Linked DNA regions of Homo sapiens: all the other regions are reported to be linked to region 1. The links are microRNA targets in miRTarBase. Many come from high-throughput screens and were not tested one by one. Region 1 holds a microRNA gene; each other region holds the end of a gene's coding sequence.
Evidence for each region. Region 1 holds the annotated microRNA hsa-miR-2277-3p (UGACAGCGCCCUGCCUGGCUC, at 1,591-1,611, shown strand). A microRNA usually pairs through its seed, bases 2 to 8, with sites in the 3' UTR of a target mRNA and lowers its output. Matches are read on the target gene's strand: a 7mer-m8 pairs with bases 2 to 8, a 7mer-A1 pairs with bases 2 to 7 and ends in A, and an 8mer does both.

Region 2: the mRNA of CERS1 is a reported target of hsa-miR-2277-3p. Seed matches in the 3' UTR shown: 7mer-m8 at 2,032-2,038.
Region 3: the mRNA of TLL2 is a reported target of hsa-miR-2277-3p. Seed matches in the 3' UTR shown: 7mer-A1 at 2,427-2,433.

What each region holds. Positions count from the first base shown.
Region 1 is chr5:93,618,173-93,622,320 of GRCh38, reverse strand. It overlaps MIR2277 (microRNA 2277), which reads left to right and starts at 1,533; the gene lies at 1,533-1,625. ARB2A (ARB2 cotranscriptional regulator A) reads left to right here. Exons shown (of 11, transcript NM_032042.6): 11 at 1,192-4,148. The coding sequence ends at 1,334. LOC124901028 (a long non-coding RNA gene) reads right to left here and starts at 639. Exons shown (of 3, transcript XR_007058874.1): 1 at 378-639. RefSeq lists a silencer at 975-1,024 and an enhancer at 3,379-4,148.
Region 2 is chr19:18,866,834-18,870,833 of GRCh38, reverse strand. CERS1 (ceramide synthase 1) reads left to right here. Exons shown (of 8, transcript NM_021267.5): 7 at 215-851; 8 at 1,444-2,289. The coding sequence ends at 257. UPF1 (UPF1 RNA helicase and ATPase) reads right to left here. Exons shown (of 24, transcript NM_002911.4): 24 at 2,604-4,000. GDF1 (growth differentiation factor 1) reads left to right here. Exons shown (of 8, transcript NM_001492.6): 7 at 215-851; 8 at 1,444-2,289. The coding sequence starts at 527. The coding sequence ends at 2,237. Among named protein-coding and RNA genes, the nearest start is that of CERS1, 27 kb to the left of the region's middle.
Region 3 is chr10:96,364,854-96,368,853 of GRCh38, reverse strand. It overlaps TLL2 (tolloid like 2), which reads left to right. Exons shown (of 21, transcript NM_012465.4): 21 at 632-4,000. The coding sequence ends at 766. Among named protein-coding and RNA genes, the nearest start is that of OPALIN, 7.9 kb to the right of the region's middle.

The DNA of each region.
Region 1 (4,148 bases):
ATCAGACTGAGGCCCTGAATCCGGAGACTTCCAAGCGGTATCTCTCTGCATAATTGAGTGATCTAGGAAGAGATTTCAACTGTTTAAAAGCTATTCACTCATTATTTCTGTGGAAGTCTGTAATTATTTTAATTTTTAATTTTAAAAAGTGCTCATTTATGAAGCCACTGGTAAAATGCTACATAAGCCATCACAGGGAGTCAAAAATAGCTAAATGTATTTCCTCATCTGTTCTTATGCTTGCATCCGTGTTATCCGCTGCCTGTGTTAAACTGAAGGTCGATTTGATTTGAAAACATGCTGTACATTAGTATTACATCGAAACCACAGAGAGAAGCCGTAGTAAAATAAAGTAACCCCATAAATTGACAACTAACCTGCATTTTCTAAGTTGAATTCCTCCTGATAAAATGGGAGGCCTAGATGCTCTTTTAGTAGTCACGGCTTTGAAACCTTTTTTTTAGCTGTTCTAAATTTGCCCCTTAAAATCTGTAAAAATGTCGCCCGCCAGGACACTTCAAGGCGTAATCCCTTTTGAATGCGGTCCTTCATTAAGCGTCCCGTATGATTTGGTCTCAGTGACCTAGCTGAGGTAATTGTGTCTAACAGCACAGCTTCCGGGAGACGCAAGAAAAATCATTCCCCCTTCCCCTCCACACCACCCCCTTGGGAAGCAAGGAAACAGGCGCTGTGCGATCCCGCACGCAGGGGAAACCAATCCCCGCGCGCGCCGAGTCTCGGGAGTGGGTGGTTTCCCGGAGGGAGAGGGAGTGGCCCTTCCCGCCCAGCGCTTCCATTGGCCCGGAGAGGCGGAGGCCTCGGGCGGCCAGCCGCGCCTCGGACGACCCCGGGACAGATCCGGGCCGCGTCCCCGCGTTGGGAGAGGGATGGGGACTGAGGCCGGAGACGCCTAGACGCCGCGGATAGCGAAGTCTGAGTTCCTCTGAGCCAGGGGGCAAGTGACCCCGCAGCCCTAGTTGTGCCCTGGGAGTCGGCTGGCCCGCGCCCGCGAGGGGGCGGGGGTCCTGGCTGAGGGGCGGGGCGCGGGCGGCTGAGGCGGGGCGCAGGCGGGAGGGGCGGGGAGGGGCGGGACCGGGTGGTCGGGAGCCGGGGCTCGGCCTGGCCCTCGCCGCCCTCACCGCGCCTGGCCCCGCGTGGCCACCTGGTAACCGAATGTGTTGTTCTTTGCAGGCACCGACCGTCACGAGCTAACTTCCTGGAAGAGCTTTCCGTCTATTTTCAAATTCTTTACCGAAGCCTCAGAGGCCAAGACCAGCTCCCTGAAGCCGGCTGTGACGCGCCGCTCCCACCGCATCAAGCACGAAGAGCTGTAAGAGGAGCGAGCGCGACGGGGGAGGCCGCCCTGGCGCACCCACCCGCACGCCTCCTCACTGCTTGTGTCGAGCGGACTCCCAGCCCCTCATTAGATTGTTTTCTTCCCAGAGCCCAGGGTCGTGATATATACATCTAAATAGCGTTTTGCATTATTTCTAGATGAGTGCAACTGTCAAAGCAATATGGGTTCACTGGTCGTGCTTCCTGCGGGCTGAGCGCGGGCTGAGCGCTGCCAGTCAGCGCTCACATTAAGGCTGACAGCGCCCTGCCTGGCTCGGCCGGCGAAGCTCTAATTGCCCTGAAGGAGACCGCGCGGGCGCTGCGGGTCCGGCGGCGTCGGCGCGGTCCTAGCGCCCGCCGTAGCGGAGCCGCTGCTGCTTCCCCCTCCTTAATCATGTCCATCTTTCCCCGCTCTCAACTGGAGCAAACTTCTATTCCAGACTTCAGATTTCCATTTTCACTAGGTTTTTCCCTGAGGGCATCTTATTACCCACCTCTTTTTTTTTTTTTTTAAGGAAGTTCCACACACACTCCAAAGCCGATTTCAAATTCAGAACCTGAATGCCATGATGTACCATGTAGTTTGGGGAATGCAAATTGTTCTCTCCCTGTTTTCATTTCGGGACCAGAAAAAAAAACAACTCTGCATAAAAATCTATAAAGTACTGAATCCGCATTACTGCTGAAAATCCTTTTGCCAGCTAATTGTGAGAGTTTACACAAGTCTCTGATTTCAGAAGAGACTGTTAAAACCAAAACAATGATGGGCAGCTCTTTTAAGTGTAGGTGTGAAGGTCCCATTTTCAATGGAATTTCCAACTGTTATCACTGGGATTGACTTTACTTTTTAAACACATAATGTGTACTGTGTGGCATTGTAATTTAGATATAACACACTTAAGTTTTGCTTTTTAAATCTCTCTGTGGAGAAAGGTTGTTGTTAATCCTTTCCAGAATGATCTATTCTGAGCTTTCCTGGAGTTAGGCCCTTCTAGGGAGAGAATTTTTTTATTGTCATCAGGAAACGAAACCTTTGTGCTCTGCAGCCTTTTTCTTCTGAAAGGCTAAGTGGGGCTAAAATTATCCTTTTAGTTTTCTGCTTTAACAAGAAGAGAAGGACTTGGTGTGAAAGAATTTCTTCTCTCAGTCCAATGGTATAATTTTTAGCACTCCGCTTCCTCTGTAGGGTTTAGCCCTACAGTTTGAACAATTATTTTAATCCAGCTAAGATGTGGCCAACACTGTGAAATACAGGAGATGTTAAGGTTTTGCTGACTTTTAGATTAAAATCTTAAAATTTCACATTATATTTTAATTACTTGAAAAGTTTAATTACCTAGTAAAGATTGTTTCTAATAGATGAGAACATAAATTTAATAGTTTTCATCCTTTTTTAAAGTGTGTGCAACAATTAATATGCCTGCCTTATTTGAGGACATGATAAAATGTACCCAAAATGACTTCGAACTGTCTAATGCCTCAGAAAAGTAACTTAAAATCAACCACTTCGTGCTTAAATGTTTTTATATTATGAACCGATTTCAACAAGTTTTAAAGCTGTTAATATCTCATTGCTGTGTTTGACATACAAGTACATTCATTGGTTCTATAGTCTTAATGATGACAAATTAAAGATGTTTTTTCAGTGCTCAGGTATGCATATATTTTCGTGTTACTTAAGCAAAATCAACTATATAGGAGGAAAAATCAAAATGGCATTTTATTCAGCTACCAGATGGCTTAAAATGAGTAAACCCCAACAACATCAAGCACATTTGTCTGTGATATTGACCCTTTTTATCCAATCATTACTATTTTAGAAGTAGTGGTGAACTGTGTAAAATAATGGTATCTTCAGCAGTGTTCCGGAATCTTAGTTGAGGGACAAACATTCCTTCCAGTGAGAGATTCAAGAATTGATGTGAATTGAATATATTTTTCAAGGTATTATAAATTGTGTTGTGTTTTCAGTATAAGAAAATGTTGACAGGAAACAATTTTATAGCATTTATAAAAAACCAACACTTGTGCAATGCTAAATTGGCGAAGCTTCTGCACCTGAATTAGAGCACAATAAATATGCTGTTTATAAACCAAATCACTGCTATTCCTTCTCTGAAATCATCTCTCCTCTTTTTAAACCTTTACTTATAGCTAGAATAAATCACTATTTAATTGCCTCTAATACTTTAAAACTACTGGATGGTTAGGCCTGGTTTAACTATTTATGGAGAGCTATTTGCAAACTTAAGTTGTGTAAATGTAATTTCTACTTGTGAATCTGAGCTGTAGCAGCCCAGAGGGAGCTAGGCAAACTATTCCAGACCACCAACTGATAAGTGATCAGATTCTTTGTAATGTAGGATTTTTTAACCTGTTGATTATGGGTTTGTTGATATAAATGTAATAATGTTCACCTCGATTTTCCTGGAGTAACAACCAGCGTTGGTAGTAGCCCACCTGCATGAGGACGGCCAGTGTTAACAATATTTTTGTTCTGATCTTCTTCCCCATTTTTGTTTCCTCAAACAGGTTTTTAGGAGAGTGGAGATTTAAAGTCAGGATGTGGCCTTTTTATTTTAATTATATACTTAATTCTTAGAACAAGTAGAATGGGAAAGGAGTGACTGATAAATCTAAGATTCAAAATAGTCCCGTCGAAACTTAAAGGCCAGATTATTGCTTTGGAGCTTTCTATAGGTACTAGCCATCCCGTCGTTAAATGTTTTCATGGATATTTGAAAAGAAGACCATGTACCTTTAATAACTGTTCTTTTCTCGAGTTTCTGCCTCGTGCTTTGACCTGGATTGCA
Region 2 (4,000 bases), not on the chromosome of region 1:
GGGGACATACGTGCCTACGGGGCAGGTTGAAGGAGGGGCAGGGTGAAGGCAAGGAGGGGCAGGGTGAAGGCGAGGAGGAAGCCACAAGGCGAGGCCCGGGCCTGGCCGGGTAAAAGGAGCCAGGGGGTGTGAAACGGCCAGAGAAGAAGCGGGAAAGAGGGCCAGGCGGCCGCGTGGGGCTCCCAGGCTAACCTGCGCCGGTTCTGACCCCCAGGAAGCCACTGAGGAACGGCCTGGTGAAGGACAAGCGCTTCTGAACCCCTCGGCCCCGCCCCCGTGGACCCGGCCCCACCCCGAATACCCCGGCCACGCTCCCCGTCCTTGGCCGCCCCTCCACCCCCTCCAACTCTGCTCCTCTAGGGCCGCCGCCACCTCCCCTGGGACCCCGCCCCCTCATCCTGCCTCCAGTTCCCGGCCACGCCCCCCAGGACCCCTGCCCCTCCGGGGACACCGGCCCCGCCCTCAGCCCACTGGTCCCGGGCCGCCGCGGACCCTGCGCACTCTCTGGTCATCGCCTGGGAGGAAGATGCCACCGCCGCAGCAAGGTCCCTGCGGCCACCACCTCCTCCTCCTCCTGGCCCTGCTGCTGCCCTCGCTGCCCCTGACCCGCGCCCCCGTGCCCCCAGGCCCAGCCGCCGCCCTGCTCCAGGCTCTAGGACTGCGCGATGAGCCCCAGGGTGCCCCCAGGCTCCGGCCGGTTCCCCCGGTCATGTGGCGCCTGTTTCGACGCCGGGACCCCCAGGAGACCAGGTCTGGCTCGCGGCGGACGTCCCCAGGGGTCACCCTGCAACCGTGCCACGTGGAGGAGCTGGGGGTCGCCGGAAACATCGTGCGCCACATCCCGGACCGCGGTGAGTGGGGCTTTCGCTGGGGACACTGGTCCTGGAGGCCAGACCTCGCAGGGCGAGCCTCGAGAGTGGCCCGGGGATGCCCGAGCAGCTCCGAGGGTCCCCACCCGCCCTGTCCAGGCTACTAGCAACTTCGGCCACCGCACCTCACCCTTTCCTCGTCATCTGCTGCACGCCGGGGACACATGTCAGGGGGTTCCCAAGACCAGTCCTTCTGCTTGATGCTGAAGCCCTGTCCCCACCCCATGCCCACCCCCACCTCTTGACACTAATGCCTTCCTGCAGATGCCATCCCCACACCCTAGCATGGCTTCCCCAGGGGCCCAGGTTCTGGCTCATGTCTCCCACTTCGGCCACCCCTCCTCCTATGCCCCCCGCCGAGGGCAGCCCACCCCCCCCGCCGCACCCCGCAGGGCGCCTTCCTTGGAACTCATGCCCTGCCCCCACTCCATCAGCCCACCCCGCCGCTTCACACCCTTCCCACAGACGGTGCGCCCCGAGCCCCAGCGTTCACCTTCCTCCCTGTCCCTAACCGAGACCCCATGGGCAGGCCGGGGACGCAGCGCGAGCCGAGTTCCTGTTCCTACCTCCCCAGGTGCGCCCACCCGGGCCTCGGAGCCTGCCTCGGCCGCGGGGCATTGCCCTGAGTGGACAGTCGTCTTCGACCTGTCGGCTGTGGAACCCGCTGAGCGCCCGAGCCGGGCCCGCCTGGAGCTGCGTTTCGCGGCGGCGGCGGCGGCAGCCCCGGAGGGCGGCTGGGAGCTGAGCGTGGCGCAAGCGGGCCAGGGCGCGGGCGCGGACCCCGGGCCGGTGCTGCTCCGCCAGTTGGTGCCCGCCCTGGGGCCGCCAGTGCGCGCGGAGCTGCTGGGCGCCGCTTGGGCTCGCAACGCCTCATGGCCGCGCAGCCTCCGCCTGGCGCTGGCGCTACGCCCCCGGGCCCCTGCCGCCTGCGCGCGCCTGGCCGAGGCCTCGCTGCTGCTGGTGACCCTCGACCCGCGCCTGTGCCACCCCCTGGCCCGGCCGCGGCGCGACGCCGAACCCGTGTTGGGCGGCGGCCCCGGGGGCGCTTGTCGCGCGCGGCGGCTGTACGTGAGCTTCCGCGAGGTGGGCTGGCACCGCTGGGTCATCGCGCCGCGCGGCTTCCTGGCCAACTACTGCCAGGGTCAGTGCGCGCTGCCCGTCGCGCTGTCGGGGTCCGGGGGGCCGCCGGCGCTCAACCACGCTGTGCTGCGCGCGCTCATGCACGCGGCCGCCCCGGGAGCCGCCGACCTGCCCTGCTGCGTGCCCGCGCGCCTGTCGCCCATCTCCGTGCTCTTCTTTGACAACAGCGACAACGTGGTGCTGCGGCAGTATGAGGACATGGTGGTGGACGAGTGCGGCTGCCGCTAACCCGGGGCGGGCAGGGACGCGGGCCCAACAATAAATGCCGCGTGGTCTGCTCCGCTGGTCTCCTTGGACTCCTTGCCTGGGTGGTGGGGAGGGCGCCCCTCAGTCTTGGTGATCGGATAGGCCTTTCCACCTCCAGGCCACCTGCCAGAGGCCTAACGCGCCACTCCGGGGAGCCGCCCGGACAGGCCCAGGTGCTGCCTACGGGAAGGGCCCAGGGGCAGGGGTCGCCCTTCAGTCCTGCAAGGCAGACCTGTCCCTTCTGGGCTTTGCCTGTCTCCCTCTGGCCTCCTTCACACCCCAACCCGTCACTCAGCCAAGGCAAAACCCCAGCACCCTCCACCCCCTGCAGTTTATCCAACCTTGGTGTGAAGTCAAAACTGTTTATTAATATTTGGTGACAAAAGAACTTAAATTGACCGAAAATCAAAAGTTACATTGCCTTGGTACAGTGCGCCTGGGTTTGTCAAGGCTGCTGCTACAAAGCTGGAGAACACAGCACAGGGCGAAGCAGAGGCAAAGCGGCCCAGCCCAACAGCCGGGATGGGGCAGGGAGCGTCCCTCAGGCCGCCGCGGGGTCACCGCGGAAACCTACCCGGTGCATGCCTCTACGCGGCCTACCGGAAGAAGGGGAAACCGAAAGCCCTAGAGCAATGGGAATAAATAAGAGTCCCTGCCAGAAGGAAGGTGGCCTGTGCGTCCCCGTCTGTCCCATGTAGAAGCCGGAATCTGGAGGTGTTCGGATCAGGGCCAGTGACAGCCCCAGGCCCGGGGCAGGGGAAGCTGGAGGCCTGGCCGCCAGGCAGAATGACACCCCAAGCCAGGCGTTCGAGGGGCTGGGGCAGCTCTCCTAAAATGACCCTCTGCCAATGACACCACACCCTCAGTCCCTTCACACAGAACGCGGTAATTTCTGTAACTTGTTTCCTTACCCCCCAGAAGCAGCAATCACCCCATCAGCAAAGTTGCCGGCAGGCAGAGCTCCCAATTTGGGCTTTCGGTGTGCAGCGCTCCGTGTCTAACCAGCACAGGGACTGTCGGTACCTCCTGGGGACGGGGACAGGGACAGGCCCTCTTGTCCTTCCACCAAATCTTCCAAAGGCCCCCGGGAAAAAGCCGTCAATCCGGGAACAGCCACCTTCTCGCCTCCTGGCCACAGGGCCAGTCCTGGCCAAGGCCCCTCGCAATGGGGCCAAAAGCACCTTCCTCACCGGTGCGGGGCCCTGCGCCGAGTCTAGGCGGGAAGCAGCTTGGCTTCTGAGTCCAGCGGAGAACGAGCAGCTTCCAGGCTCGGCGGGCGGCTACCCCAGCAGCCTGATGCCCCGCAGAAAGAAGCCACTGGAAGCTAAAACCAACAACAAAACTCCTCCGGCCGCGGCACAGGTGTTGCTCCTCTTCTCCAGTAGCGCTGGCTTGTTTAAACTGTTTCTGGAAGCTTCTCAAATCTCCCAGGTCCACCGCTAAGATTTTACAGACAAACTTAGGAAAGTATTCTTCAGTACTCCTTTAAAAGAATCTTGAAAAAAACAAAGAGAAAAACCCAAAACACCCTTATTTTCTTTAAATGAAGGCCCTCGGAGAACACAGGCAGCGCGACCTCGGCGCGTCCGGTAGGCGTGGACAGACGCGCCCTCCCGGGGCTCTGCCCCGCACGCTGCTGTCTTTGCAAGGAGCCTGCTCGGGCACAGAAATGCGAAGTTTTTTTTCCTGCTAAGACGTAGTCCCCTTTCAATCAAAGAGAAAAAGAAATAAAAGAACAGAGGAAA
Region 3 (4,000 bases), not on the chromosome of region 1:
AAGCCCACTTTGGCTCCACTAGAACCTCGCAGGCAACAGCCTTGGAACGTGGCTCCCATTCACAGACCACCTGGCAAAACCTTTCTGACCAATATAGTGGCTCCATCCCATTTTTTTGTCCTTGGATGAGACAGAGGCCTGAACCATGGTCTTTGTTTCAGGTCTCCTGGGAGACACATCATAATGGTGACCCTGGAGCTCGGTGATTCATGGTGCATCCTTTACTGTCAGAAGGACCTAAGCTTGGGTCCCGCCTACCTGCGAGAACTTGAGTCTCAGTTTCCTGAAGTGAAAAATGGGGATAGTACCTGCCTTATAAGGTTGCTGTAAAGTTTACATAAGATCTGGAATTGCCTAGTGCAGCACCTGACCCACCTGCATACTTAATAAATAATAGATTCTATATGAGCTATGCACCTAGGATCATCTTTGGAAGAGCAGGGCCTGCAAAGCTCCCTGGAGCAGAATTTGCAATGTTTTCTTTTGAAAAGGAGCTTGTTTGGATGCCCTTCAGAGTCTCTGGTACCAGAGACACATCCTGTGTCCTTGCATAAGATCCTGTCCCATCCTCCTCATTTTCAACTCCAATCACAGCTAAAGTCCTTCTCGTTTCCCTTTCTCCTTTCCTCAGCCATTAGAAGAAATCTACTCTGCAGGTGATTCCCTGATGATTCGATTCCGCACAGATGACACCATCAACAAGAAAGGCTTTCATGCCCGATACACCAGCACCAAGTTCCAGGATGCCCTGCACATGAAGAAATAGTGCTGATGTTCTTGAAAGACAGAAACTGAGAATTTTTTTTGTTTTGTTTTGTTTTTAACAACAATAGCACCTTGAAAATCTGCCCTAAAACAGTGTACAGTATTTTTCTCAAACAAAAACTCAGAATCCAGCCTTAGAGGTATATATTTGAATGAAAGTCTTGTAAGTTTGGCCAACAAGGTGGAGAGAAAAATGTTCTTTTGCTTCTGTCTGCAATGTTATCATTCATGAACTGTTAAAGTGTTAAAGATTAGGATTGAAGTCACTGACCATTCCGGCTATGCTTCTTCATACCATTCTCCTTGTCCCTTGCTCCTATGTGGCAAAAGGTCAGCCTTGGGGTTGGCCGTTCCTCTAATCTGGACTTGCTTGCAAAGGTGCCAGGCTGTCTTCTGTCCATGTTGGGCATAAGGGATGAAAACTTGGCCGAGACTAATGTGTGGCCCACAGCTTTGGCTGGAATCATTTTCTTTCTCTCTGCCAGGGACATGTCAACCAAGAAACCTGAAAATATGGATGGATGTCAGGACTAAAAAAAGGCATCACAGTGAGCAGTGAGCACAGAGGGAGTTTCGAGTATAAGAATCATTGTCATGAAGTTAGGAGACCACAAAGCCATTTCTCAGAGTCATTCACTCTCCTTGTCCCTTTGGTTTCCCCCCCTCCCTAATTGCAGTGGGGGCTAAGGCATCCATTATGAATACAGCAGAACATTTGCTGGCGAGAGTCCTGTCTGCTGAGAAGACAATATTGTGGCTCGTCCTGATATTTTTTTCATTCATTGACTTTGAGAAGACTCCACCTGTGCTTGGAATTCCATGGGCTTCAAAGAACATTTCTTCTTTTAGCTTTGGAGGCACTTGCCGTGGCACACCTGGACTCCTTGACATCCAATTCAAACTGCATTTGCAAAATGTGCAAAGACCTCTTATGAGGGACCAATTCAGGTCCCTTATGGGGTGAACACTGTTGAAGACTGGTTAATTATAAGTTATGTAAGAATCATCGCCTTGTGGAACAAGTCAATCAGTGACTAGCTTCCTGTAGCCAATCAGGTTAAAGAGTGCGTTGGTAACTTTGCTCTGATTAACTAGTATTCAATCACCAACTTGCAAACAGAATTCATAACACTTGGCACTTGTTCTAGAGAAGTGTAGAGGATGATGTTTACATAATTTTAGCACCTCAAGGTATAATTTAAACAGTGAGGTAGTTTTGAATGGCATTTCATTAAGGCATCTATGGGCATTATGAGCTAAAAGCTGTGGTATGTTAGCTTTAAAAGAGTATTTATGTTGGAATAATTTTTAAATAATGTTTACATAACTGTAAGTCCTGTTTGGTTGTTGTTGGACGCAGGGCGGCACATGAGTGTTTTTGGTTAGAGCCAAGATAGCTCCCATGCACCGGAATTCCTTTGGGATGAATCAGCATCATTTTAAACAAAGTATATGTAAAAGGTGAAAGGTTATATTTTTTACAGATCAGAATGTGGCACCAGAGGACTGTGTCTCATTAAAGTGATTGCTGGGAGCAAAAACTAGAATGATACAAAGAAAGGTCAGAGAAATGCATGGGAATATTTTTTCCTTAAAACAGAAAAAAATTAAAGTATTATTAATAATATATGTCTGTATATATGTATGTATGTAAAAGATCAGCTGTCAAAGCCTTAATCAATGCAGTGTGGAAAATGCCAACCCCTGGTCCTCGCTTTACTGTGGGCCCTGCAGGACTGGCTCTCCATTTCCTGCCTCTCCTTTCACCAAGCTCTGTTTTGGCCTTTCTCGGCCCTGGACTGAGGCTCAGCCTACACGCTCATATTGTGCATATGGCAGACCCTGCCCAGCGTGCGCTTTGATACAGCAAATGGAGCAGCTGACCTCATGGCTCCAATCCCACCTGCCTGTTAGGGTAGATTCCATTTATCTGATTTTTGTATTTTCTGAGGTTTTATTTGGTCTCATCTTGTCTATGAGAGTTGAAACTGGAACTGGGAAACCTAAGATGGGTGTTATGGTTCTTTCTCCAAGGAAATAAAAATTCTGCAGTTTTAACCTTTAGAAGTCTAAGCAAGATTAACAAATTTCATAGAAAAGTGGGAGGGAGTCAGAAACAGAGTTGGTGCTGCTCAGCAGGACGGTGAAACAATGATACTTCTTTTTATCTCTTTAGTATGAACATTTTCAAAAACACACAGCTTCAACAATTGTCACCATATGGCCAATTTGCAACAATGGGACTCTTATGAAAAACCTTTATTTAGGCCTTCTGTGTGACGTATCCACAGAAAAGAGAAGCTCTGATTCAGCTGGGGCTAGCTGGGCCGCTCCTCTGGAAGCCCACACTTGTGGGGACTTAGGCATGACACAGGTTCTTGCAAAGAAACTAGAGGCTGGCTTCACTAGAGAGAGTCCATTCAGCAGAAAGTCCCAGGCCTCTGCCTTGGTGCTTCCAATTATCAGTGACCTGCCTGCAAGCATCCCCAGAAGCAAACAGCAGAGGTAGAAGATATCACTGCAGCCTGCTTTGTGCTTTAATTGGGTACCAAGCTTTGGGGATGACAGTGAGTTGCAAGAATAGTTTTAGTTCAGAGAATTGTCTTAGGACAACAGGCTAATGAAGGATTTGGGGTCTGGGTTTTTAGCCTGGCTCCGTTCTGGTGTAACCCGGTCTAGCAAAAGCTAAGCCTGGATTGCAGGGCAGGAAAAAATCTGGAATTAACTTTAGCCAGTGGAATTTCTTCAAACAGAGAAAGAGAGGCTGTTCATTGATCCACTATTCCCTCTATTTTCCTCTAAGGTAAATATTTAGAGGTATTTACCTGTAAGGTGAAGTTTCCTTTTTATTTCTACTTTACAATTTCTCTCTAAAGCAAGCTTGTCCAACCCTTGGCCCAGGACGGCTTTGAATATGGCCCGACACAAATTCGTAAACTTTTTAAAAAACATTGTAAGATTCTTTCTGTGATTTTTTTTTTTCTCGTCAGCTATCGTTAGTGTATTTTATGTGTGGCCCAAGATAATTCTTCTTCCAATGTGGCCCAGGGAAGCCAAAAGATGGGACACCCCTGCTGTAAAGTTTCATATCACTCATGAATTGCTCAGCTGATTTAAATAATTTGTAAAATCCTGCTAACTAGCAAATTCACATTGAGATTTTCTATTGATTGGGTCCCTTTGATAGCTTTCAGATTGGTATTGTTAGCGTTCCATTTGTGAACAAATGTTCCCT